Linked DNA regions of Homo sapiens. The protein of the gene in region 1 purifies or fractionates together with the protein of each later gene. This does not show direct contact. Each region holds a gene or a part of one and is shown in the gene's direction. Other genes may lie near its edges. The genes, in order: POTEB3, HMMR, SCML2 and SLAIN1.

Region 1 (7,203 bases):
ATAATAAGTAGACAAGTGCATTGAAAATTGTAAGTGTGACAGAAAGGTCACCACTTGATTGCTACTATTATATCGTTTTATTATTTTGTTCTCCCAACAATGTATAGCTCAAATTTATACTACAGGCTGTTCATATCCCTTAACAAAATATCCATTAATTTATGAATTTGATAAAATTCTAACTTACTGCAGTGCCCTACAAATAATAGTTTGGCCCATCTGTGGTGATGACTGTTCTGGAAGATCTTTCTGATGTTGAATAACTAATATTGTGTTTCAATGTTACTATTAGGTTGGTGCAAAAATAATTGCGATTTTTGCCATTAATCACAACTACATTTGTGCGAACCTAATAGTAATTTAACATTCTGTATCTAACATTTGTGGACACTGATCGAATATGCAATATTCTGGGGAGAAGTTGGTGGAAGAGATGTGTGTTGTTTTGTGAAAGATAGTATTCTGAGGGAAGGCAGAAAAGGGATATACATATAAGAAAATAGTGGATCTTGATCAGATGCACACTTGTTCCTATTTACAAGAAGTCTACTCTGTGTTACTGAACAAATCAACTTACATGAAGTCAACTAATTCCAAAGAATTTACCGTCTAGAGAAATTCACATTTGTAATAATAAATACTTTTCTTAATGACAGAAATTTTATAATATGTCTTTTTTACTTTATAGCTATAACCGTAGAGTTATAAAATCTAAATACAGACAAGCCTACCCAGTGTTTGATTATATTCAATGATGTTTAAAAGTAATGGCCTCTCTTTTGTTCTTACTGGGAAAATTATCATTAGCACAGTGCTTCATGCAGGCTCTTATTACTTCTATCTCCCATTGTTATGATTGGCAAAGCACAAAGCCATACTCAAATTGGAATGCTTGGGCACATTGCAGTATTTATCACAGGGTGGACTGGATACTGAGTTTCTTAATTTATAAATATTTCTTTCCAATGCAAAATTCATGAAGGCTTAATGTTGGGAAATGTCTGAATGGCTATAAATTCCCTTCCTAATTCCCTCCCCTCAATGCATACCCATTTTTTTTTGGCTCATTCTTAGAACTGTAGCTGTTCTTGAATCTTTGATGAGTTGAAGCTAATCCACATTCGGATTTTACAATCTCATATAATTGCCAAAATTCTACCCTTCAAAACACTTGTTTCTTTCTTTTTTTTCTCTTACATTTCCTCAAAGAAAATTAGTGAAAAAACAATTTTTTATTTGGTCTGAAACTTTATGGTGGAAATCTGAGGACAGGAAGAAATTTAGGGACTTGTTCATGCACTTTTGATTTGGCGAATGCCTGGAATATATTTTTTTCTCTCTGCACAATGCAAAGTAGTTGCACTCACAAAGTATCAATTAGAAAAAGAAATTCTTTCCACATTTCATCAGAGTTTTAAGTGGTTACACCACAATAATCCCCAGCTATTTGGGAAATGGTAAAAAAAAAAAAAAACAACTTTGAAGATCAAGCCATCATTATTATTTTCACTAAAACCTAAAAATTCAGCCACAATATGTCAAACCAGTTGGGACAGGACTTCCTTCCACTAATTTAGTTTTTACTGCTGGATACCTGATGGGCTACTTACTATATCAGGTGTCTCATAGGGCAAATTGTACCTGGAGATAAAAAAAAGAAGAAAAAAACAGGCTCCACCCCCTAGCAGCAGAATACAGCAGAACATTTAGGTACCCACAGAACATAAACCAAAATGGACTGTATCCTGGATTTTAACAAACATTAAGAATTTTTTAAAAACTGAAATCCTGTAGAATGTATCCTCCAGCCAAAATGGCATCAAATTAAAAATATAAAAGTAAAATAACAGCAGAATCTTAAATACTTGAAAAATAAACAGCATACTTTTTTAGTTCTTTTTTTTACATTTTTATTTATTTTAAGTTCTGGGGTAGGTGTGAAGGATGTGCAGGTTTGTTACATAGGTAAATTTGTGCCATGGTGGTTTTCCCTACCTATCAACCCATCACCTCGGTTTAAGCCCAGCATGCATTAGAGATTTTTCCCAATGCTCTTCCTCTCCCTCCCCCATCCACAGGCCCCAGTGTGTGTTGCTTACTTCCCTGTGTCCATGTGTTCTCATTGTTCAGCTCCTACTTATAAGTGAGAACATTAGATGTTTGGCTTTCTGTTTCTGCATTAGTTTCCTGAGGATAATGGCTTCCTGTTCCATCCATGTCCCTGCAATGGACATGATCTCCTTCATTTTTATGGGTGCATAGTATTCCATGTTGTATGGGTACTGCATTTTCTTCATCCAGTCTATTACCAATGGGCATTTAGGTTGATTCCATGTCTTTGCTATTGTGAATAGTGCTAAACAGCAAGCACACTTCTAAGGAGAACGTCTCAAGGGAAACAATTAAATATATTAAACTGAATAAAAATAAAAATACAACATATCAAACTTGATTTAACACAGTTGACGTCAGTGCTGAGAGGAAAATGTATTTCACTAAATATATATAATAGAAAAGTAGAAATCTCTCAAATAAAAATTCAAGCTATCACATCAAGAAAGTAGAAAATAGTAGCAAAATAAAATCAAAACAAATATAAGAAAGAATATAATAAGGATAAGAGCAGAAATAAATGAAACAGCCAAAAGAAAACAACAAAGAAAAGCAAAGAAATAAAGCTGGTTCTTTGAAAATATCTATAAAATTGACAAACCTTAACTAATAATGATAAAGAAAAAAGGGATGTCATAAATTACCAGTTTCATGAATGCAATGGGCTAACATTAGCAGTAGAACTCAGCAATGTACACAAAGAATTACACAGCATGTCCCAGTGACGTTTACTCCAGTGACTGCACACCTAGACATTCATCCCACTGAAATAAAAACTTTTTTTTTGCACTTGCAATTGGCTTCCCCTCTGCTTTTGTTGGCAAGAGCAGGTCGGTGTCCCAGGCTTAGAATCCATTTTTCTCTCTCTCCGTCTGTCTCTCTGTCTCCGTCTCTGTCTTTGTCTCTGTCTCTCTCTCTCTCTCTTTCTTTTTTTGACAGAGTCTTGCTTTGTCACCCAGGTTGCAGTGATGCGATCTCGGGCTCACTGCAAGCTCCGCCTCCCAGGTTCACGCCATTCTCCTGCCTCCCGAGTAGCTGGGACTACAGGCGCCCACCACCATGCCCGCTAGTATTTTGTATTTTTAGTAGAGATGAGGTTTCACCGTGTTAGCCAGGATGGTCTTTATCTCCTGACCTTATGATCCGCCCGCCTCAGCCTCCCAAAGTGCTGGGATTACACGCGTGAGCCACAGTGCCCGGCCAGAATGCATTTTTCCTCCCACACCAAAGCACCTGCAGTATGGGTGAAGCAGCCTGGAGCCTGGCTGCATAAGCCTGCACAGCAGGAGGGTCCCAGCAGGAGGGTAGAGGTGCCACTGCCTGGGTCCAGCTCACAGGCTGCCAGGGAGGCTCCGATCTGGCTCCCTGGTGCTGGCAGTGTCCTGTTCCCAGGATCTGCACGTGGGGGTGCCTTCCTGCATCTCCCCATCAGTGGTAGGTGCTCCTCCCAGCCCCCTCTTGCAGGCCTGGAGACAGCGGCCTGCACCTCAACCCTACTGCATGCCAGTGAAGCGAAGCACCCCGGGCCAGAAGCCCCACAGCTGTTGGCCCTGGTTTGGACACCAGGCAGGGGGCACCACAGCAGGAGCTAGCAGCCCAGCCCCGATTCTGTGGCCCCGAGTGCCCCGTTGCTGATGGCCCTGTGTTCTGGGTGCGGACCAAGGAGGAGCAGGTGTGGAAGGCGCCTCAGGCAGGCCCTGGGCTCCGTGGGCGTCTTGTGCTCGGAGATTTTGAGGCCATTTGCATCCAGCTCCGCCAACCAGAGCTCTAAGCTGCAGCGGCGGCCACCCGCAACAGCGCCACCACTAGTGTCTTGGGGGCTTTCTTCAGAGGAGGCTGTCAGCATCCTCGAGTTCCAGGCGCTCTAGCCCCAGTCCTGCTTCAAGAGGCTTTTTCCCACCACAGGCTTCTCTCCTCAGTGGCCAGAAAGCTGGGCCAACTCCCATGAACTTTGCCAGTAACGCAAGGCTGTCACTGACATTTGTGGCGCCAAGACTTGCGCACGCGGATTGCACACATCGGCCACTTCCTGGACCACGTGCAATGACACGCGCACGCCTCACGCACACGCCGCATAACGTCTGAGGCGCGCGCCCCGCACGCGCGCCCCGCACGCGCATAACGGCTTGGCTTACCTGTAACGGGTACACTTCGCTTCGCGTTCCTCGCTTGGCCTTGCGTTCCTAGCTTGGCTTGGCTGTTAGTAGCTTTGCCTGGTGTTTCTTGCTTGGATTGGCGTTTCCTCCCTCGCATTCCTTTGCTGGACTTGACCTTTTCTCTGCTGGGTTTGGCATTCCCTTGACTGGGCTGGGTGTTTCCTTGGGAGGGGGGGCTTGGCCTTTCCTGGGGTGGGCGTGGGGTCCCCCTGGTGGGCGTGGGCTTTCCCCGGGTGGGTGTGGGTTTTCCCTGGGTGGGGTGGGCTGGGCTCCCTTGCTGGGCTTGGCAAGTTTTGGCTGGGATTGACCTTTCTCTTCAAACAGATTGGAAACCCAGGGTTTCCTGCTAGTTGGTGAAACTGGTTGGTAGACGCGATCTGTTCGCTACTACCGGCCTCCCCTGGCTGTTAAAAGCAGATGGTGGCTGAGGTTTGTTCAATGCCCGCTGCCTCTGCTGTGAAGAAGCCATTTGATCTCAGGAGCAAGATGGGCAAGTGGTGCCACCACCGCTTCCCCTGCTGCAGGGGGAGCGGCAAGAGCAACATGGGCACTTCTGGAGACCACGACGACTCCTTTATGAAGACGCTCAGGAGCAAGATGGGCAAGTGTTGCCACCACTGCTTCCCCTGCTGCAGGGGGAGCGGCACGAGCAATGTGGGCACTTCTGGAGACCATGACAACTCCTTTATGAAGACACTCAGGAGCAAGATGGGCAAGTGGTGCTGTCACTGCTTCCCCTGCTGCAGGGGGAGCGGCAAGAGCAACGTGGGCACTTGGGGAGACTACGACGACAGCGCCTTCATGGAGCCGAGGTACCACGTCCGTCGAGAAGATCTGGACAAGCTCCACAGAGCTGCCTGGTGGGGTAAAGTCCCCAGAAAGGATCTCATCGTCATGCTCAGGGACACTGACATGAACAAGAGGGACAAGCAAAAGAGGTAACCGGGCCTGGGATGGGAGGAGGCGGGACATGGGGGGATGATGGGGACATACCCTCCTGGCGCAGGGAGGGAGGAGCCAGGCTTTCTCTTCCTCCGCAGGCCCCACACCACCCTGGGTGTGGAAACCTCAGAGATGTCAGGGCCCAGGTCCCTTTATAAACAGCAACACAAAAACAAAACTTTAGCTGATTTCCAATCCAATTATAATTTCCCTTATAGAACACTAATAGACGGTTTTAAAGTGATTTAACTCGCAAAATTAAGTCGATGCAGCAGATTATTTTTAATGTACACATTTTAAAACAATGTTCTATACACTATAGAAAGGTGTATATTGAGAACTAAGTCCCATAATATATCAACTTCTGGGCTAAATATTTTTCAAATAAAATCCAATATGGATTTTATATCGATGTGTACCCTATGTAAACACGTTCTTTACTGAGTAACCTTAAAAGGAAACTGAAATGGGAAGTATGGTTCATATCTTTGAATAGGAAGGTTCGTTTTTCTTAAGATGTGAGCTTTTTCTGTGTTTATCACTTTTACATAAGCCAAATAAAAATAGCAAAGTCTTAGTGTCTTTAAATTGCACATGATGTATTTTATCATTGTGATAAATTGATTTTTTGTAACAGAATGGAAAAAGACTTGCTTTTCCAGATATCAAAATGTGCGTGTGTTATTTCCACAAATTGTTTACTAACAGCTGAAAAGACATAAGTGAACAGAACAGAATAGGAAATCCAGAAATACCCAAATATATGTAAGAATTTAGCACTTGATAATGGTGATGTTTCATATTGGTAAAACAAGGTGAATTATTCATAAATTAAATGCATGCTGTTTGGAGAAAACTACCTAGATTTTTATGTCACAAAAATAAGTTCCTGGAGTATAGATTAAAAATTTTAAAGATACAAAAGGAGAAAAGTACCAGAAGAAAACACAAATGCCTATTTATATGTGCAAATATTTATTTATTTTTCTGAGACAGACTCTCACTCCATAGCCCAGGCTGGAGTGCAGTGGTGCAATATCAGCTCACTACAACCTCTGGTTCCTGGTTCAAGTAATTCTTTGCCTCAGCCTACCAAGTAGCTGGGATTACAGGCACCCACCACCATGCCTGGCTAATTTTTTGTGTTCTTAATCAAGACGGGATTTCACCATCTTTGCCAGGCTGGTCTTGAACTCCTGTCCTTGTGATCCACCCACCTCAGCCTCCCAAAGTGCTGAGATTACAGTCATGAGCCACTGAAACCGGCATATATATGCAGATATAATAAAATAAGCTCAATTTAAAATTGGGCAAGGTACTTTTTTGCATGTCTACCAGTGACCTGTGTACATAGGAAAACATAGCATTCCTGCTAAGAGAAGGAATTTAAGTTAGAAGAGGAATGAAAGACTATTTTCTGTTTAAGTTAGAAGAGGAATGAAAGGCCAGCCATGGTGGCTCATGCCTGTAATCCCAGCACTTTGGGAGGCCAAGGCAGTTGGATCACGAGGTCAGGAGTTTGATACTAGCCTGGCCAGCATGGTGAAACCCATTTCTACTAAAAATACAAAGAATTAGCTGGGCATGGTGGCATGCACCTGTAATCCTAGCTACTCAGGAGGCTGAGGCAGGAGAATTGCTTGAACCAGGGAGATGGAGGTTGCAGTGAGCTGAGATTGCACCACTACACTCCAGCCTGGGTGATGGAGTGAGACTCCATCTCAAAAAAATAAATAAATAAAAATAAATAAATAAATATAAAGGAATGAAATACTGTTTTGTGTCCACAAAGTTTGTGAGGGTGAAGAACAGTGGTACTTATATACCTGCTGAAAGTTTAAGTTGCTGCGACTTTTCAAATAGACACTTTGATGGTAAGAACCACATTTTTAAAATGTGTATGCCTTTTACCCATCTGTTCCATTATACCGAAATATCTATATGAAACAGACACAGCTGTTTTTCTTAGTATTGCTTAAAATAGCCATGTATT
Region 2 (7,029 bases), on another chromosome or scaffold:
AAACTGTCGTTTGCTCAGTTGCCTGTGTTCCTTTGACCCGGTTGATATAAAGGGCAAGATGATATTGTTCTTCATAGAGAGGCCTTCTTTGTAATATCAAATGGATGCAATTTTTTACATTTAAAAAAAGCAGTTTGTTAATGACATTTTTACATTTATATTCACTTTATTATGACATGTTTTAACTTAAGATCATAAGTAACATTAGATAATATATTAATGTTTTCTATTTCCTCTAGGTTGTGCACCATCTCCAGGTGCTTATGATGTTAAAACTTTAGAAGTATTGAAAGGACCAGTATCCTTTCAGAAATCACAAAGATTTAAACAACAAAAAGGTAATATAGATCACCAAAGAACAATGGTTATGTGATCTTATAAGTTTTAAAGTTATGAATAACAATATTTAAAGATGTTATAGCATTTTTTAAAATGTGAAGCTAGAACTATATTTAAATTTTATTTGATGGATTTATGAAAGGGTCAAGTACAGAATAATGCTGTCATCATTACATTGTTATATAACCAGGAAAATTAAGCAAGATACTTATATTGATATGTAGCTTCCCTTTTGGTAATTACCTTGACTTGTCAGGGAATATTAGGAAAATCAGAAAGGTGTTAGATGTGTAAAAAAATTGTATGAGTAATTATTTGAAAATGTACAACTAAGGAAAGAATATATTGTTTCATCAAAAGTTGTAATTAGAAATTTGGGGCCGGGCAAGGTGGCTCGTGCTCGTAATCCTGGCACTCTGTGAGGCCAAGGTGGGTGGATCACATGAGTTCAGGATTTCGAGACAAGCCTGGCCAACATGGTGAAACCCCATCTCTACTAAAAATACAGAAATTAGCCAGGTGTGGTGGGGTGCGCCTGTGGTTCCAGCTACTAGGGAGGAAAGTGGGAGAGTTGCTTGAAACTGGGAGGCAGAGGTTGCAGTGGGCTGAGATGACACCACTGCAGTCCAGGCTGGGTGACAGTGAGACTGTCTCAAAAAACAAAAACAAACAAAAAGAGAAAGACAAAAAAATTTGGAAATTGTGTTTTGTGTGTAGTTAAAACACATTGACATCAACCATGATCTGTACAATTCATTTTTCCGCAGAATCTAAACAAAATCTTAATGTTGACAAAGATACTACCTTGCCTGCTTCAGCTAGAAAAGTTAAGTCTTCGGAATCAAAGGTGAGGAGCTTTTATATGCCAGCTGGTTTATCAAGTGTATCATCAAAAACATCTGAAAGTATTGTATTTGATTAGAATGGGTTAAGTGTATGAATCAAGGTTATAAGTAAATCTGTAAATTAATGAAATGAGTTATCATTAGAACTCTAGCAAGTTTTACATTTCTGCCTAGGTCATTATGTTTAAATGTGCCCTTAGTTCACAATTATAATGGTCTTCAATTCTCAATCACTTCTATGTTTAAATTGTTCATTACCTAGTAAACATTTCAAAATTATGTGATGCTTTGATTTATTAAGTACCACCATTTGAGTTGTTTTGTTTTTGTGTATTTGTTTGTGGGGAAGGGTAAGTGTTTTTGAAGAAAAGTGGGAAAAAATGCCAATATCTAAGAGAGGTTTGCTACTGAGAAACTGTTAAGGAGTGGTGAGAGATTAAATTCTTAATAGTCTTGTGGCTTGTGCAAGAGCTACTATTACTCTTTTCATAAGTTTATAAACAGGCAAGCTGCATAGTACTTTTTAAATTTTATTTATGTATTTTTTTTTTGAGATGGAGTATCACTCTGTCACCCAGGCTAAAGTGCAGTGGCGCCATCTCAGCTTACTGCAGCCTCTGTCCCCACAGGCTCAAGCGATTCTCCTGCCTCAGCCTCCCCAGTAGCTGGGATTACAGGCACGCCCCACCACGCCCAGTTACTTTTTGTGTTTTTGCTAAAGACGAGGTTTAAACATATTAGCCAGTTGGGCAGGCTAGGCTGGTCTTGAATTCCTGACTTCAGGTGATCAGCCCACTTTGGCCTCCCAAAGTGCTGGGATTACAGGTGTTGTCCACCACACCCAGCCGCCATATAATACTTTTTAAAAGACAGCTGGGGGGCGCACAGTGGTTCACGCCTATAATCCCAGCACTTTGGGAGGCAAGGCAGGTGGATCACTTGAGGTCAGGAGTTTGAGACCAGCCTGGCCAACATGTAGTCAAACCCCATCTCTACTAAAAAATACAAAAATGTGCTGGACGTGGTGGCACGTGCCTGTAGTCCCAGCTACTTGGGAAGCTGAGGCAGGAGAATTGCTTGAACCTGGGAGGCAGAGGTTGCAGTCAGCCAAGGTGGTGCCACTGTACTCCAGCCTGGGCAACAGAGCGAGACTCAGTCTCTCCAAAAAAAAAAAAAAAGACAGCCGGGCACAGTAGCTCACGCCTGTAATCCCAGCACTTTGGGAGGCTGAAGCAGGTGGATTGCTTGAGGTCAAGAGTTCGAGACCAGCCTGACCCACATGGTGAAACCCCGTCTCTACTAAAAATACAAGAAAATTAGCCGTGTGTGGTGGCACGTACCTGTAATCCCAGCTACTCGGGAGGCTGAGGCAGGAGAACTGCTTGAACCTAGGGAGGCAGAGGTTGCAGTGAGCCGAGAGATTGCACCACTGCACTCCAGCCTGGGCAGCAGAGCGAGACCTATCTCAAAGATAAAAATAAAGTAAAAAAGTTGTACAAATTAATAGGTTTTTTGATGTGAAAAATATTCAGAGTTGGAAAAAGGCTTAGGTTGTTCATTCATTTGGCAGTTGCCTAAGCCTCATATTCTGTAATATAGAGCTATGTTGTTCTGTATGGAAGCATAGCCACATGTGTCTATTGAGCAACTGAAATGTGGCTAGTGCTATTAAAGAACTAAATTTTTAATATTTAATTTTAATTAATACATATTTAAAGACATACTCGATTTTGTTAGTGGAACGCTTTTAAATATTTTTGGAACAACTTGAGTATGTGAATTTACTTTCTCCTTTCTATGTTTTATGAAATTAAATATACATAAACATTTCTGATGAAAATTTAGCATTGAATTAAGACGTGCTATAAGTGTAGAATACAAAGAAAACTTTAAAGACTTAGTACAAAAATATAAAACATCTCATTGATAATTTTATACCAATGACATGCTGAAAAAATATATTTGATATGTTGGGTTAAATAAAATATATTAAGATTTTTACTTTTTAAACACACTACTAGAAAAATTTAAATGCATAGGTGGCTTGCATTATTTTTATTGGGCAGGACTATTATAGACACTCTTTTCTTAGAAATTGATGTAAGTGGTTTGACTTAAATTTCTTGAAGAAACTGTTCTGTAATTTTGTAATTTATAAAGCCCCTTAGAAAACTAAATTACATACAAGTTTGTATGGAGCCCCAAAATAATAGTCCTTCCCCATAAAAAATTTCATGGAGTGTGAAATTAATAAACATGACACTGATGTCACCCCCACCTCCTGCCCCACTTAGAAACATCTGAAACAGATTTCATTCAAGATGTTGATGCCTTTCTTCCATTTTTAGATGGAAAAGATATTCTTTTTCTAGCCATTGTGTCAGAAAGTCTGTTGGATATAAAAAGATATAGTGTGAAAATTATATGTCTTATTTAGAATAAAGCCAATGAGAAAATTAGAATCAGAGCTTATGCTGTTTCAGTTTTTATTTCTTTGCATCTGTATATTTTCCTCTTCGGGTATCAAAGTTTAAGTCGATTTCTCTTTGTAAGATTCTTTCTGAGATAGCATAATTAAATATTCAAGATGTGTTGCTATTTAACATTAGAGGGAGGCAGTCAGTAGCTTTATTCATAAAGTTCCACCTGTTCTTTTCACTGGGCTGATTAGGAAAATCCTGATTTATTGGGTTGAAAATTTCTAAACCTAAAATGTCTTGAGATTTTTAGAATATTTTATTTATCAGATGAGTGGCCTACACAATGTTTAACAGTGTAATGTTTAAAATAGAAACTAACTGATTGGATCCCTTCATCTTTTCTGATAACTGAAAAACAAATTTGGCTGTCATATCTGTGACATCTAAATTTGCTTATAAGTTTTTTTGGCTTTTAAACAGAAGGAATCTCAAAAGAATGATAAAGATTTGAAGATATTAGAGAAAGAGGTAAGCAGTGCTTTAAACTTAGTGAAAAGTACACATGATAGAAAGAGAGTTACACAGATTTAAGAGATAAGGATTCTGTTGCAGTGTGAGGAGTCCTGCAGTGAGGCAAACATGCCATCCAGAACAGTGCCTACAGGAAAACAGTTCTTACAGTATTTCACAGATCTATCCGGGCTATGTTAATGTGGTATGCTGGCAACGCCGAGATTAAAGATAGCCCACTTAATGAAAAACTGATAACTGAAAAATCATTATGTCAGTTGATTACAATTATATATGTGGATCAAATATTTATATCTATCCATCGTTCACAGTCTTCCTGTATGCTAACTTATGTTAACACAACATAGCTAGAGGATTTCTTAGTGAGCATGCAATCCTAGCTGGTTAGACTGTGATGAAGTTAGGCTAACTCGATGCATTGCTCTGCACAATAGGTATAGGCCTTCCTCATGGGTGAAATAACATAGAGCTGTGCTGTTTGATATGGTAGCTACTCACCACATGTGATGATCTAAATTAAATAAGAACTCAATTCCTCAGTTGCAATAATCACATTTCAAGTGCTCAGTAGCCACATGTGATTGGCAGCTACCATACTGGACAGGGCATTTCCACCATGACAGAAATTTCTATTGAACAGTACTAACCTAAAGAACCCATTTACTTTCCTAGCAATGCTAAGCAGCTCACTGTGAACTTTGCTTCTCTGCAGTCTTTTTTTTCTGTTTCCATTGCTGACCAACTCTTTTCCTCATGGATATATTCTTTCAATATATTAAAATCTTTCATTTGATTACAGTCGAATGTTGGCTTTCAACCAAGAGTATGTCAGAGTAACTGTAAATGTCTGCTCAGTTGCTCTGATTCTTTTTTATGTATTCTAATAATGTTAGCTATCATTTTACTGAGGGTACATGTAGGGGTTGATACTTACAGGAATAATCACTGAGTCTCAGTGAGATAGCTGGTAAGTGAGTGGTAGAGCCAGGATTAGAACTAATAATTTACACCAGTGACTTCATTGGGTATAGAATTTTAGGGTGGCAGGTTCCCCCCCATTATATTAAAAATATCATTTCATTGTCTTTTGGCTTCCACATTTTCTGTTGACAAATATTGGTTTGGGTTTTTTTTTGTTTTTTGTTTTTTTAATCTGGTAATAGCAGCAAGAATGATGGCTTGCCAATGCCTAGTACATTCTCCTCAGAAGCCCAGCTCTGCCTTCTTGAAATAAAAAACATTTAGCATTTTAAGCTAATTTGAATTTGTGTAATTGAAGCTAGAGAAAATAACTATTATAGGTGGAAATACCTTAAAAGTGAATAAATAGCGGCCGGGTGTGGTGGCTTACACCTGTAATCCTAGCACTTTGGGAGGCTGAGGCGGGTGGATCACGAGGTCAGGAGATCGAGACCATCCTGGCTAATATGGTGAAACCCCGTCTCTATTAAAAATACAAAAAATTAGCCGGGTGTGGTGGCCCGTGCTGGTAGTCCCAGCTATTCGGGAGGCTGAGGCAGGAGAATCGCTTGAACCCAGGAGGCGGAGCTTGCAGTGAGCCGAGATCGTGCCACTGCACTCCAGCCTGGGCAACAGAGCACAGAGCAAGACTCCATCTCAAAAAAAAAAAAAAAAAAGTGAATAGATAGCTTAATTGTACTTGGAACTTATGGCAACTAAAGTTCTTATGTTCTTAAAATGCATTAAGACTTTTAAGATGTATCATAGGTAAATATGATTATTCAAATAGCTAGTAACATTAGAATATCTACAAGCATAATGTCAAAATCAGAGATTTTTCCAGAAACTTTAGGGGTGATTATTGGTAGCATCTCCTTATGTTGGCATTCTATCAGTGAATCATTTATTATCACCTTGTTTTTGTCCAGATTCGTGTTCTTCTACAGGAACGTGGTGCCCAGGACAGGCGGATCCAGGATCTGGAAACTGAGTTGGAAAAGATGGAAGCAAGGCTAAATGCTGCACTAAGGGAAAAAACATCTCTCTCTGCAAATAATGCTACACTGGAAAAACAACTTATTGAATTGACCAGGACTAATGAACTACTAAAATCTAAGGTATCTGAGCCTCATGATAATATTTACAATTGAATAAATATAAACACGTTTTTTAGGGCCGGGCACGGTGGCTCACGCCTGTGTTCCCAGCATTTTGGGAGGCCAAGGCAGGCGGATCACCTGAGGTCGGGAGTTCGAGACCAGCCTGACCAACATGGAGAAACCCTGTCTCTACTAAAAATACAAAAATTAGCTAGGCCTATTGGCGGGCGCCTGTAATCTCAGCTACTCGGGAGGCTGAGGCAGAAGAATCACTTGAACCCAGGAGGTGGAGGTTGCAGTGAGCTGACATGGCGCCATTGCACTTCAGCCTAGGCAAGAGAGTGCGACTCCATCTCAAAAAACAAAACAAAACAAAACAACATACACCAGGCGATTCAGATTCATTTTGTTAAGCAAACATGTTTCAAGAAATCCTTTCTCAGGGACTTGCTTTAGAGTCTTGCAATGGACTTTCCAGCATATAGAGGTAAGTGACCACCCAAACAACCTTTCAAAAATGAACCAACAGGCCAGCCACAGTGGCTCACACCTGTAATTCCAGCGCTTTGGGAAGCTGAGACGGATGGATCACTTGAGGTCAGGATTTTGAGACTAGCCTAGCCTAACATGGCGAAACCCCATCTTTACTAAAAATACAAAAATTAGTCAGGTATGGTGGCGTACACCCGTAATTCCAGCTACTCAGGAGGCTGAGGCATGAGAATAGCTTGAACTCGGGAGGCTGAGGCATGAGAATAGCTTGAACTCGGGAGGTGGAAGTTGCAGTGAGCAACACGGCACTCCAGCCTGGGTGACAGAGTGAGACTCTGTCTT
Region 3 (7,029 bases), on another chromosome or scaffold:
CTAGTCTTTTTTTTTTTTTTGCCTGGTTATTCTGTCTGCCATTTTTCTCCCTCTATTCTCATTCCACTTGTGAATGGAAATCGGAGGTCCTCTCTATTAGCTACCCTCTCGGGGTGGGGAGGGTAGGTCTCACTGTCTCCTCATAGTCATATTCCTGATTTTTAGGATATACAAGAACAAAGTGGGCTCTGCCAGCTATCAGCCTTAGAGCTATGAGCTGTGGTGCAAAGATTAGTCTGTCATTGCCAGAAGGTGTTTTGTAGTTTGCAGTGGGCAAATCAAGCATCCCTAATAATTTTAGAACCATTATTAATGTCTGAGAATTACTACATAATACCTTAGAATTTGAACTGATTGTTGATTCCAGGAACTAAAAACCTGGACATTTTGAAAATGGCAAATGTTGGTGATGTTTTTTTTTTTTTGAGATGGGCTCTCGCTGTGTTGCCCAGGCTGTAGTGCAGTGGCGTGATCTCAGCCCACTGCAGCTTCTGCTTCCTGCGTTCAAGCAATTTTCCCACCTCAGCCTCCTGAGTAGTTAGGATTACAGGGGTGTGCCACCATGCCCAGCTAATTTTTGCATTTTTAGTAGAGACGGGGTTTCACCTAGTTGGCCAGGCTGGTCTCAAAACTCCTGACCTCAGGTGATCCTCCTGCCTTGGCCTCCCAAAGTGCTGGGATTACAGGTGTGAGCCACCACGCCCGGCCGTGTTGGTAATTTTGAAGGAAGAGTTTATACCCTTCCCTGGCTTTGGGGCTTAATATTCAGGATCTCTTTGTCTTGGGGAAATAGATAAAAGAAACCACTGGCGTTTATCTTAGATTAAAATGGCATAATTTATACCATTATATAAATACTGGTATAATTTAGTGGTAAGTACATTTTTTAGACTCTAAGTACCTTAGGCTTTGGTTACCATTTATAAAAAGAGTTTGTGGTAGTTCTTTTTTTGATACGGAGTCTTGCTCTGTTACCCAGGCTGGAGTGCAGGTGCAATCTCGGCTCATTGCAACCTCTGCCTCCTGGCTTCAAGCAATTCTCCTGCCTCAGCCTTCCCAGTTGCTGGGACTACAGGCATGTACCGCCACACCCAGCTAATTTTTTTTTTTTTTTTTTCCGAGATGGAGTCTCGTTTTGTCACCCAGGCTGGAGTAGAGTGGCACGATCTCAGCTCACTGCAACCTCTGCCTCCCAGGTTCAAGTGATTCTCCTGCCTCAGCCTCCCAAGTAGCTGGGACTACAGGCGTGCGCCACCGAGCCTGGCTAATTTTTGTATTTTTAGTAGAGATGGGGTTTTACCATGTTGGCCAGGCTGGTCTCAAACTCCTGACCTCAGGTAATCCATCCACTTCTGCTGCCTCTCCAAGTGCTGGGATTACAGGCATGAGCCACCGAATCTGGCCTTTGTTTTTTTTGAGAGTCTTGCTCTGTCTGTTGCCCAGGCTGGAGTGCGGTGGTGTGATCTTGGCTCACTACAGCCTCTGCCTCCTGGGTTCAAGCAATTCTTGTGCCTCAGCCCCTGAGTAGCTGGGATTACAGGCGTGCATCACCATGCCCACTAATTTTTGTATTTTTCATAATTTTTGTATTTTTAGTAGAGATGGGGTTTCACCATGTTGGCCAGGCTGTTCTCGAATTCCTGGCCTCAAGTGATCCTCCTGCCTTGGCTTCCTGAAGTTCTGGGATTACAGGCGTGAGCCACCTCGCCCTGCCAATGGTGGTTCTTAAAAATAACTTGAAAAAATTTTAGAAGCTATCAAGATTTGAAATGTGTATGTGTTCTTTGGTTTTCATGAGAAAGGCGATTTTGTTTATTTTGTCATTATGTTGTCTATTTCTAGGGTTACCTTGGCAACCTTAGAAATAATACTGGGTTTTTTTTTGTTTGTTTTTTTTTGAGACGGAGTCTCGCTCTGTTGCCCAGGCTGTAGTGCAGTGGCACAATCCTGGCTCACTGCAACCCCCACCTCCGAGGTTCAAGTGATTCTCTTGCCTCAGCCTCCTGGGGAGCTGGGATTACAGGCGTGCGCAACCATGCCCAGCTAATTTTTTAAAAAATAATTTTAGTAGGGACGGGGTTTCACCATGTTGTTCAGGCTGGTCTCAAACTTCTAACCTCAAGTGATCCACCTGCCTTGGCCTCCCAAAGTGCTGGGATTACAGGCGTGAGCCACCACGCCCAGCCTGGAGAGGTGTTAACATAAGCAATGGAGATATCTTATTGTGTGAAAAGTGAAATATTTGAGGATCCTGTAGCAGTGAATATGATGGTGCTGTTCATCTTAATATCATGATCATTTGACCTAGACTACATGAATTCCTTATTTGAAGAGTTAAAACTTATAGAATAAGCTGTGAGTAAAGACCTGGGAAACTGAAGATAGCATTTGATTACCTACTACTTGTGACCTGTGTTTATGGCTATGGCTCTGCCTCTTCCTAAGTTTATAGGAGCAAATTGTTTTAAGAGGGGAAAGAGAGTGCCCACTTTTAGTGGTAACGTACTGTTGTAAACTTCAGAAGGGACAGATATATTACAATTCTAGGGCATACCTTGAAGATGCTTTCATTTCTCAGAGAAAAGTTTGCGGGGCTCTCTTTGGTTGTGTTTAGAATACACATTTGATTTTTCGCAACCTCTGTTTCTCATAAAGATTAACTGGTGGCGAATTATAGACAAACAGCTCCATTTGTTTGGTATGTACCTTATAGCCTTGACATAGTTTTTTAAGTGTATTGACAAAGTGCTTGTTTTTTTTGGTTAACATTTGGCCACTTTTCCTACCTTTCATCAGTTTTAGCTGGTTTAAGGTTTGATTATATATTTATTTTTAAATGCTGAATCAAATGTGTTTCTTCTTTTCAGTTCTCTTCCTCTTTGAATACATTTGGAAACATGTGCCCTTTGCTATGAACTGTTGCTTTTTTTTCTTTGGAAATATTTTTTAAAATGTTATTTGGAGTATTTTTCTCTTTAATGTTATTTGAAAAGCAATATAGTCAGTATTAATTTTTAACTAACTTGATAGAGTTTCATAAATCTGTTCAAATGAAACACGGCATCTTTGGTCATTAAAAGAATTAATATATAGTAGGCAATAGTAAGTATATTTAGATATTGTTTGGTTTTAGATTACTTTAGAGACTCTGATTTGAGATTTTTTTTGTGTTGAAATTTGAGAAGTTGTAGAAATATTTGAATGGGTAATTTGCTGACACCTGCCTCATGTTTGAGGTATTTTCAAGGATGTTTAGTTTTCTGGTTTCTTCAGATTGTGGTTTATTGCATGCTTTTCTGCAGTCTGTTGTCTAGTGGGGATTGTTGTTGTCATCATTTCCATTATTTCTTGTAGGGCCGGTGTTAGAAACCATAAATCTAGACTGCAGTGATAATAGGAACAGCCTGTAACCAGATCCAGTTCTTTTGTCAAAAAGTTGCACCATTAGCTGCCTGTAGTATATTGACATGCCCTGCCATTAACTCAAGTCCTTCACAAAAGTCAGTGGGTAGCAGGTCTTTGGGCAGTTAGCCTGTAGCTGTGCTTTAAAACCTCAGGAATTTACAACTATAAACTGGGATTTTGGCAACCCTTGACTTATCTTTCGTTTATCTGTTTTCTGACATGACATACTTCTTCACTAAATACATAGCTTTCACATAAATCATTTTGAAATTGCAAGTGATTAACTTACAGGTTTTTTGGGGGGTAACTTAAATTAGAAATTTTTGAAAATAGTTAAGCCTTCTTAGGTTTGTTTTGACACAGAAAAAGATTAATTACTAATTTGTTGGGGTGGACTCTTTACTAAAGCATAATTTAAAATTGCTCCTTTAGAAACCTTAATTTCCTCAAGAAGGCTTGATTTGATAAATTATTGCTACCAAAAATGTTCTTTGATTTTTTTTTACAGATTTCAGAAATATGGAGATGAAAATGTTCTTTTTTTTTTTTTTTTTTTTTTTTTTTTTGAGACGGAGTCTTGCTCTGTCACCCAGGCTGGAGTGCAGTGGCATGATCTCGGTTCACTGCAGCCTCTGCCTCCCAGGTTCAAGCAATTTTCATGCCTCAGCCACCCGGGTAGGTGAGATTATAGGTGTGTACCACCGCAGACGGGGTTTTGCCATGTTGGCCAGGCTGGTCTCGAACTTCAGACCTCAAGTGATCTGCCCACCTCGTATTCCCAGAGTGCGGGGATTACAGGCATGAGCCCCTGCGCCCGGCCTAAAAATGTTCTTTTTTTTTTTTTGAAATGGAATTTTACTCTTGTCACTCAGGCTGGGGTGCAATGGCACTATCTTGGCTCACTGCAACCTCCCCCTCCCAGATTCAAGCGATTCTCCTGTCTCAGCCTGCCAGGTAGCTGGGACTACAGGTGCCCGCCACCACACCCGGCTAATTTTTGTATTTTTGGTAGAGACGGGGTTTTACCATGTTGGCCAGTCTGGTCTCAAACTCTTGACCTCAGGTGATTCACCCGCCTCAGCCTCCCAAAGTGCTGGGATTACAAGCTTGAGCCACCGCACCCGGCTTGTTCTTTCTTAATATTGATTAGTCTTAATTCAGAGATAGAATTTTAGTTTTAAATGTAATTACAGTATTAGAATTTAGTGTTTTTCTGATTACTTTTATAACTATGTCAGAAAATGTGACATTTGATTATTTACTTGAGTGAATTGAATAGATACTTGTGGAATCTTAATGTGATGACTCATGTTCAATTCCACAAAATTATGTATGGTTATACAATGGAATATACACTTTTTCTATCCTGTATTAGGATAATCACTATTACCAGAAACAAAATCTTAGTTGAAAGAGAGAGCTTCTCTTGGTCAAAGAAAAAATACATAACTACAGTGTATTTTAATTAAATCAGTATTTTTTTTTGCATTTAGGCATAAATGTGAAGTACTTCTTGAAACAAAATAATAAACTATTTACAAGTTAAAAACATAAAGGTGTTATTTTATGCAGTTAACTCAGACCTTCCCCTTCACAATAAAGGACAGCGTTTTTGTTTGTTCAAGTCTAAAAGTAGTGTCTTTATAACAAGATAGATTTTAAAAGGAAAAGAACCCTTTCTACCTGTGCTATTTAATTAATCTCTGGTAAATTGTGTATGTATAATAACTTCCGTCACTTATTCCAACATTTTCTTTAAAACACCAGCAAACGTATTTGTGAATCTCTCTTATCCTTGAAACTTCTTATGCTGTTGATAAACTCAAGGGGCTATGATGAAACATTTTTTTCAATAGATTATTTTGTGAATAGGGACTTGGCTTGTTGTTTCTTTTTTTGGTGAATATTGGTTTAAAGCACATGTTTTAGTTATACCTGTTATGTAGTTGGCATTTATAAACTGAATTCTATAATGGTAACTCATACGGAGCCTGACTTTTTGAGACCATGAACATCCTAGAAAGAGATAAAATTCAGAGTAAAAAAAAAAGGCCAATCAACTTCTGGGAAAGAGAGAGATATTGGAGGTGGGGGATTGTCTCAGATCTCACAGAATTTTCTCCTTGGCCCATTGACTTAGACTTGTGTGTAAATTAAGACAGCTGATTTGATATTGCAGGAAAGAACAGAGAACAACAATGATGGCCAAAAGAAAAATCTCGGCCGAGCGCCGTGGCTTACGTGAGCCTGTAATCCCGGCACTTTGGGAGGCTGAGGCAGGAGGATCATTTGAGCTCAGGAGTTTGAGACCAGTATGGGCAACTTAGTGAGCCATCGTCTCTACTAAAATTAAAAAAAAAAAAAAAATTAGTTGCTGAGCTTGTTGGCACATGCCTATAGTCCCAGCTACTTTGTGTGTGTGTGTGTCGGGGGTAGGGGGTGTGCAGGGGGTGTGCTGAGGCAGGACAATCACTTAAGGCCGGGAGGTCAGGCTGCAGTGAGCCCTGATTATGCCACTGAACTCCAGCCTGGGCAACAGAGTGAGACCCTGTCTCAAAACAAAGAATAAAAGAAAAATTTTATCAAAAAATTGTTTTAGTCCATGTGTGGTGGCTTACACCTCTAATTCCAGCACTTTGAGAGGCTGAGGCAAGAGGATTCATTGAGCCCAGGAGTTTGAGACCAGCCTGGGCAACATGGAAAAACTCTGTCACTACAAAAAATACAAAAATTAGCCAGGTATGGTGGTGTGTGCCTGTAGTCCCAGCTACTAGGGAGGGTGAGGTGGGAGGATCACCTGAGCCCGGGGAGGTTGAGGTTGTAGCGAGCTATGATCACTCCACTGCACTCCAGCCTGGGTGACAGAGAGACCCTGTTTCAAAAAAAAAATTGTTTTTAAAAACCACAGTATTCTGGTTCTATATAGTTTAGATACAAGCAGCCTATAGCACAGCAGAGTTTACTCATTCAGCAAACATTTTGGGGACCCTAGTATGTGATAGACACTGTGCTCGTTATTCTGAAGGATATAAAGAAGAACGAGATGTGATACTGCCCCCAGGAGCTTATTGTCTAGCACGGGAGAAAAGGCACTTACACAGTTAAACACAACAAAGGCAGTTTTAGCACAATGGTTAAGCATTCATGAACCTAGATTCAAACCTAGCTGGGTGATCTTGGGCAGGTCTTTGAGCCTCAATATCCTTAACTTTCAAATGAACATTAATGGACATTAATAACAGTATCTACTATGCAGGCTTGTAATAAGCTTTAGATAAGAAAAAATACATATATAAAAGCCTTAGGGTAGGGTACCAGGCATTCATTAATAGCAAGAGCTCAGTAAGTAACAGATCTGAGTAGTAGTATCACCACTGCCAACACCATTATCATTGAATCTCTGGGAACATAACTTTTGTTTTCTCCTGCCCTCATGGATCCGTTTTGTCTAGGGTATCTGGTATATTATAATATCTCCTTGTATTAGTCTGTTTTCACGCTGCCGATAAAGACATACCTGAAACTGGGCAATTTATAAGAAAAAGAGGTTTAATGGACTTACAGTTCTACCTAGCTAGGGAGGCCTCACAATCATGGTGAAAGGCATGTCTTACAGGGCAGCAG
Region 4 (7,029 bases), on another chromosome or scaffold:
CTTTATCACTGCAGACTATAGTGTCCCAGTAGTGTGGTCTCAGAAATAAGAGTGCTGTTCATTTGGTTCCCTGATATGTTTGCAGGATGGCAACTTATTTTTATTTCCTGTGTTTATTAAGAAACAACTGGAGTGGGTATATAGTACCTTATTTTAAAAATATTTAAAACTACAAGTTTTACATGCTCATTGTAAAAAAACTAAAACATAGATGTAGGTATAAGGTCACAAAAATTATCTTCCTTGTCCCCAATTTATTACCGTGACTCAGAATTCACCCTGTTAATACTCTGCAGCTCCTTCAAGATAAAAAAATATAATTACAACAATCAATATACAAACATATACACATCAGTTTTTTTTAACACTTGCCTTTCATTGAACATACATTGGACATTTGTGTATTCATGTGACATCACATCTCCCAGTAACAAAGGCATCATTATTAGAGTAACAATATTAAGGAACAAGTTACTGTTAACTGTATCACCTACAGTTTTTCATGCATTTTTTATTGTGATTTCATCCTAATGGGTTGAACAAAATGTGTTTGCTTATTTATTTAGAATAGCACTTCCTGCTAAAAATGTCATAAGTTCAGGAAAGTTTACAAATGTAGATTAATCACTGGATATTTTAGCTATTCTTTTATGTAAGTATATCTTTTCTAATAAAACCTTAGAATACATTATTTTCCTTTTATTAACAACTTGGACAATATTTGGGTTAAGAGTTATGTGTGTAAGGAAAATCATGACTAACAGAACCAATATTTTCTTTATGATAGTTCATTAGTTAATGATTAACCAGGTCTTTGAGATCATTTTTCTGAATAATTATTTAACCTATAAGTAGTATCTTAAAAAAAACAGCTTTAAAGAGAATGGAGTGTTATGCTCTCCCTTTTGACAAAAAAGCTTTGATGAAACAATTTTCTTATTTCTTTGAATATTTATCTTAATTGAATTTTAAGTCTTGAATGTTGCCTTAATACTACCTGATTATCTTAGCACAGTATTGCTGGAATTAAGTGTCTCAGAAAGTTAAAGTTGATGGCAATTCCAGAACCTGAATTCTTTCTTTCTTTCTTTCTTTCTTTACTTATTTATTTATTTTTTATTATTATACTTTAAGTTTTAGGGTACATGTGCACATTGTGCAGGTTAGTTACATATGTATACATGTGCCATGCTGGTGCGCTGCACCCACTAACTCATCATCTAGCATTAGGTATATCTCCCAATGCTATCCCTCCCCCCTCCCCCCACCCCACTACAGTCCCCAGAATGTGATATTCCCCTTCCTGTGTCCATGTGATCTCATTGTTCAATTCCCACCTATGAGTGAGAATATGCGGTGTTTGGTTTTTTGTTCTTGCGATAGTTTACTGAGAATGATGATTTCCAATTTCATCCATGTCCCTACAAAGGACATGAACTCATCATTTTTTATGGCTGCATAGTATTCCATGGTGTATATGTGCCACATTTTCTTAATCCAGTCTATCATTGTTGGACATTTGGGTTGGTTCCAAGTCTTTGCTATCGTGAACCTGAATTCTTAAGTCATCTTATAGCCCTATAGTAAAACTCTCATCCTGCTATACTGATTCCTCAGTTATCTTACTAATTTGATAGGCTTAGCTCTCCAGAAGGCCATTGGCTAGAAAGGAAAAGGGAAAAGTCTGAGTATCAGGAGCAAATAAAAAGCTCAAAGGGACTAAAATATCCATGCATACATGGGACACAGTGTGATTGGATGCTTTTTCTATCTTTATGGAAGAAATGTTTTTAAGATTTATATTTGTCCTAATGTCACCAGGCTCTGCAGCACCAGAGTACAAACAGAGTAATTCAGATTGGTCTGAAGTGGCAATGGGAGCCATTAGCTAACTGCATACTAGACCTTCCTATGACCTGTTTCAGCCCTCTTATTTCAGTGTTGAGGGACGGGAGCTCTGAGGCAAAATGGCTTATGTAAGCTCTTCTAGTTACTGATAGAGTTCAGACTAAAAATCAGATTATTTGTCCAGATTCAGAAGTGTTTACATCACTGATATTTTTTTTTCCCCAGAGCTAGCTGTGTAACTCATTAGTAAGTTTATAAAGTCAATTTAGTGGATTGACCAGCATTTTAAAAAAGTGAAGTGCAGTAGAATAGAAAATCAGAGTTTATCACATCTTATAATACAATGCTTGCTTTGATTAAATATGTTTTAGTTTTATAGATGTGGAAATATTAAACGTATTTTTGCATTATGATCAAAGTTAACAAAACTCTATACTGTTTGAAAGCAAAACGGAGAAAGCAGGTGGAAAAGCACTGAAGATAGTATAGTACTCTGAAGGGAAGTTAGGTCTTGCACACCTCAACCAGGAAGATGGTTCTATATGAGAAAATGCCACGATAAAAATAAGTCAGCCAATATAAAATGCAGCCATATAAGGAGGCTTTATTTTAGTAGAATGACAATTAACAGAACATTGAGACTATATAAACAGGATGTGGCAAGGATTTTTAACTTTCCCAACTGGGAAAGACAATGGAAAAGTTGTTAATTATACAAGGAAAAATGGTGACTTGTACAAATTAAGAAAAATTTAATGAATGAGATATTCATCTTCCACATGTAATACCAAGACCCCAGACAGCTGGCTAACATCATTGCCAATTTTTCATCAAAGCTGTTGAACACCTTGTGCTATACATATGGCACAACTAAATTAGACCACCTAAACTGTTTTTTGCATAATTGATTTTCAGTGAAAAGACCAGAGGGTGCTTCCCTTTTTGACAGTGCTAATTGAAAATGTACAATGTTTTCTAGGAGCAAATGGAGTTGACTGAAGTGTATGACGTGTGTTTGAAATAAGTAACTTTTAAATGTTGAAGTGAGGTGCTGAAGTAGTTTACCTGCAACTGGGCGAGGCAGGGTTGGGGGTGGAGGGAAAGTTTGTTATAGGACAGCTTAGTAAGTAACGCTTGAACTTCATGTATCCTTTTAAGAGCCTGTTGGAACTAAGTATTGTAGTGGCTATCTAGTTTGATCCTAGCAGGTGCCAGTGACTCAAACACTGTTACAGAGAACTAAAGATTCGTTGATCGTGCTTATTAGTGTTGATGTTTCAGCTTTCCTTAAAATAAAACTTGCAGAGATTGAAGGCTCTTAAAATTATTTGTCTGAAAATTACCACATATTACTTTTCAGTGGCAGGTCTAAAAAAAAAAAATTATATATATATATATACACACACACATATATATTTTTATATGTGTATATATACACATATAAAATATATATACATATGTTTTATATGTATATATATACATAGAAAATATATATACATGTTTTATATGTATATATATACATAGAAAATATATATACATGTTTTATATGTATATATATACATAGAAAATATATATACATATGTTTTATATGTATATATATACATAGAAAATATATATACATATGTTTTATATGTATATATATACATAGAAAATATATATACATATGTTTTATATGTATATATATACATAGAAAATATATATACATATGTTTTATATGTATATATACATAGAAAATATATGTACATATGTTTTATATGTATATATATAGAAAATATATACATAGGTTTTATATGTATATATACATAGAAACTGTATATACAGAGGTTTTATATGTATATATACATAGAAACTGTATATACAGAGGTTTTATATGTATATATACATAGAAACTGTATATACAGAGGTTTTATATGTATATATACATAGAAACTGTATATACAGAGGTTTTATATGTATATATACATAGAAACTGTATATACAGAGGTTTTATATGTATATATACATAGAAACTGTATATACAGAGGTTTTATATGTATATATACATAGAAACTGTATATACAGAGGTTTTATATGTATATATACATAGAAACTGTATATACAGAGGTTTTATATGTATATATACATAGAAACTGTATATACAGAGGTTTTATATGTATATATACATAGAAACTGTATATACAGAGGTTTTATATGTATATATACATAGAAACTGTATATACAGAGGTTTTATATGTATATATACATAGAAACTGTATATACAGAGGTTTTATATGTATATATACATAGAAACTGTATATACAGAGGTTTTATATGTATATATACATAGAAACTGTATATACAGAGGTTTTATATGTATATATACATAGAAACTGTATATACAGAGGTTTTATATGTATATATACATAGAAACTGTATATACAGAGGTTTTATATGTATATATACATAGAAACTGTATATACAGAGGTTTTATATGTATATATACATAGAAACTGTATATACAGAGGTTTTATATGTATATATACATAGAAACTGTATATACAGAGGTTTTATATGTATATATACACACATAAAATATATACTTGTGTGTATACATATGTGACTGTACCATTTGTTTTTTGTATTATCTGCAAAAAGATGACTTTAGAACCAAATATTTTGAGAATAACTGAGACTTTGTTTTCCAGACAGTTGTCATACTTCATTGGAAACATTCAGGGTTATCATGGGCTTTATATTATTTTTGTTCTCCCAGCATAGAATGTGATGTGTATGGAAAAGAAGGGGTTCTATGAGAAGGATAGTAGTTTCTGGTGTGTGTGGTTTGGAAGCAATTTAAGAAAAGTTAAAGAAAATTAGAGTGACATTCCAAATAGTAGTTTGAAATGTATATTTCAAATATAATTTGAAGAATTCTGAAAATTTAGATTAAGACTTTTCAGATGCTCTTGCCAGAATCCAATATACCATTAATGAAACTACTGAAGTTGAAAAAAATGTTTATAAGTCACTAGAATGTATGATGTACTAATGATGGCCAGATAGGACATTGTAAATGTTACTTGCATTCTAATGACATTGAATAAAGTGATTTTTAAAATGACTTTTTGGAGGGTTAGAGCTATATAGGAGAAATACAGATTTTTTTTTTTTTTTAAAAACCTTGCCTATCTAATTTTGGAGCTGTGTTGTACTCAAGGAGTTTTTAGCCACATGATCTCTATAACTAGTTTTTTGTATTATCTGCAAAAAGATGACTTTAGAACCAAATATTTTGAGAATAACTGAGACTTTTTTTTTCTAGACAATTGTCATACTTCATTGGAAACATTCAGGGTTATTGTGGGCTTTTTCTTTCTTTAAATCCAGCTCTAGGCCAAGTCATAGAAACACTAGGCTCAAAGCTATCCTGCTCACTGTCAGGAGACTGACTCTGAAAATGATCACTTCTGTCTTAATGCCATACATTTGTATAGCACCTCAACAGTTTTATCAAAATAATATAATAACATGTTAGTAGTTTTCAAAACTCCCCTTGTTAGGCTTATTACAGGAAGCAGTCCTCTACTCCCTCCTCCTGCTGAGTCCTTCACATAGGCATCACTTTATACTCTACTAGCTGTTTCTTTTTCCTAAACAGTCTTTATACTTTTATGATCTTAGACATCTATGGACTTATTATGAAAGAAGAAAACTTAGCTCTCTTCCTCTCACCCTTGACTACCATATCTCTTTTCCCTTCTCATAATGGTTTTTATGGTTTTTCTTTTATATTTAATGTCTGCATTATGATTATAATTTACTAGCTAAGTCCTGTTAATTGCATGTTAAACATGTATTTTCTCTGACCCCTTTGTTCCTCCAAGAGTTAGTAATGGCACTTCTTCTCTCCTCTTCACTTTCTTTAATTACCTATCAGAAATTATTTCCCCAAACACGCTAAAGGAGCCATAAAATCCCTCATTAAGGTCATACACATTTGGCAGTCTGTTAAATCTGCTTTTTTAAAATTTATATTGTAGTGCTATCCCCTCTGAAACTCTTAATCTCATTGCTCTAGTTTTTACTGTTTGCCCCCTAAGCTGGATGCATACTGCTGTTGCCATGGGAACTCTTTCAGTTTCTTGGCAATGTGGATTCCCTTCTTCTTAAATCCTTTTCGTTTGTATTTTTTTTATTCTCTTAGGTGGGGCACAGCCTTCAATAGCTTTCTGAGAAAGGAGACCTGCAGGAGAGGCACACTTTGAGATCCTGCGTATTTGAAAATGTCATTGTTCTGCCCTTACATAAGATTCATAGTTGGACTGGCTATAAAAGTCTAAGTTAACCTTTCCCTCATGTTTGAAGGCACTGTTCCATTTTGTTCTAGCTTCTGTTATGTTCTAGCTGTTGAGTGCACTGTGTTTGGATATCTAATCCTTTTTGACTTTTTCTTTTGCTTCCTTTATTCCTAGTATTCTAAAATGTCATGTTGTACCTTGGTATGGGTTATTTTATTTAATATACTGGACATTCGTGCACACTTTCACTCTAGAATTGCATGGCCTGACTTCCACTCTGGAAATTTTCTTGCTCTTTTTTTTTTCTTCAAAATAACTTTCCAGTTTCTTTCTTTTCTTTCTTTCTTTTTTTTAAGAACTTGTAACAGACAGATGTAGGTCATTCCATCTGGCTTAATCACTTGATTTTCTTATCTGTCTTATCCCATTGCTAATCTGTTTTTATTTTGTTTTCAGGAGACTTCTTCAACTTGATATTCCAAACTCATTTACTGACTCTTTTGTTTTTGCTATGATAGTTTCATTTCCCAAGCATGAATAAACTGTTTTTTTCAATATCCATGTGTATGTGTGTGCTTGTGTGTGTGTGTGAATGTAACATTTTCTTTTAGATGATATAAATTATATTCGTCTTGACATTTTCATCTGTTCCCTGCATTGTTTTTCTCTTTGGTTCTCTTTACTCCCTCTACTTTTAGTCTCAGTGTTTCATGTAAAAGGAATATTTCACATATTTGGTGTCACTGGTTGTCTGTTCATACCCAAAGGAGGTGCCGAAGCCGATCTAAAGCTCTTAATGGATGGAGCTCCTTGGTGCAGTTTACTAGTGATTGGATGGGTAGCCAGGCCACATTCAAGCATCTCTAGGTCTTCTCTTGGATTCATCTTTTTCTCTATGCATAAA

The links.
Region 2: the proteins of POTEB3 (region 1) and HMMR purify together in Homo sapiens (co-immunoprecipitation; 2 studies listed by BioGRID and IntAct, with this or other methods). This does not show direct contact.
Region 3: the proteins of POTEB3 (region 1) and SCML2 purify together in Homo sapiens (co-immunoprecipitation; 2 studies listed by BioGRID and IntAct, with this or other methods). This does not show direct contact.
Region 4: the proteins of POTEB3 (region 1) and SLAIN1 purify together in Homo sapiens (co-immunoprecipitation; 2 studies listed by BioGRID and IntAct, with this or other methods). This does not show direct contact.

What each region holds. Positions count from the first base shown.
Region 1 is NC_000015.10:21,437,494-21,444,696, reverse strand, and holds the start of POTEB3 (POTE ankyrin domain family member B3), read left to right. Parts: upstream 1-4,197; 5' UTR 4,198-4,685; coding exon 4,686-5,206; intron 5,207-7,203.
Region 2 is NC_000005.10:163,463,617-163,470,645, forward strand, and holds part of HMMR (hyaluronan mediated motility receptor), read left to right. Parts: intron 1-239; coding exon 240-338; intron 339-1,106; coding exon 1,107-1,186; intron 1,187-4,084; coding exon 4,085-4,132; intron 4,133-6,024; coding exon 6,025-6,213; intron 6,214-7,029. UniProt on the Homo sapiens protein: Receptor for hyaluronic acid (HA). Involved in cell motility. When hyaluronan binds to HMMR, the phosphorylation of a number of proteins, including PTK2/FAK1 occurs.
Region 3 is NC_000023.11:18,344,666-18,351,694, reverse strand, and holds part of SCML2 (sex comb on midleg-like protein 2), read left to right. Parts: intron 1-7,029. UniProt on the Homo sapiens protein: Putative Polycomb group (PcG) protein. PcG proteins act by forming multiprotein complexes, which are required to maintain the transcriptionally repressive state of homeotic genes throughout development.
Region 4 is NC_000013.11:77,700,659-77,707,687, forward strand, and holds part of SLAIN1 (SLAIN motif-containing protein 1), read left to right. Parts: intron 1-7,029. UniProt on the Homo sapiens protein: Microtubule plus-end tracking protein that might be involved in the regulation of cytoplasmic microtubule dynamics, microtubule organization and microtubule elongation.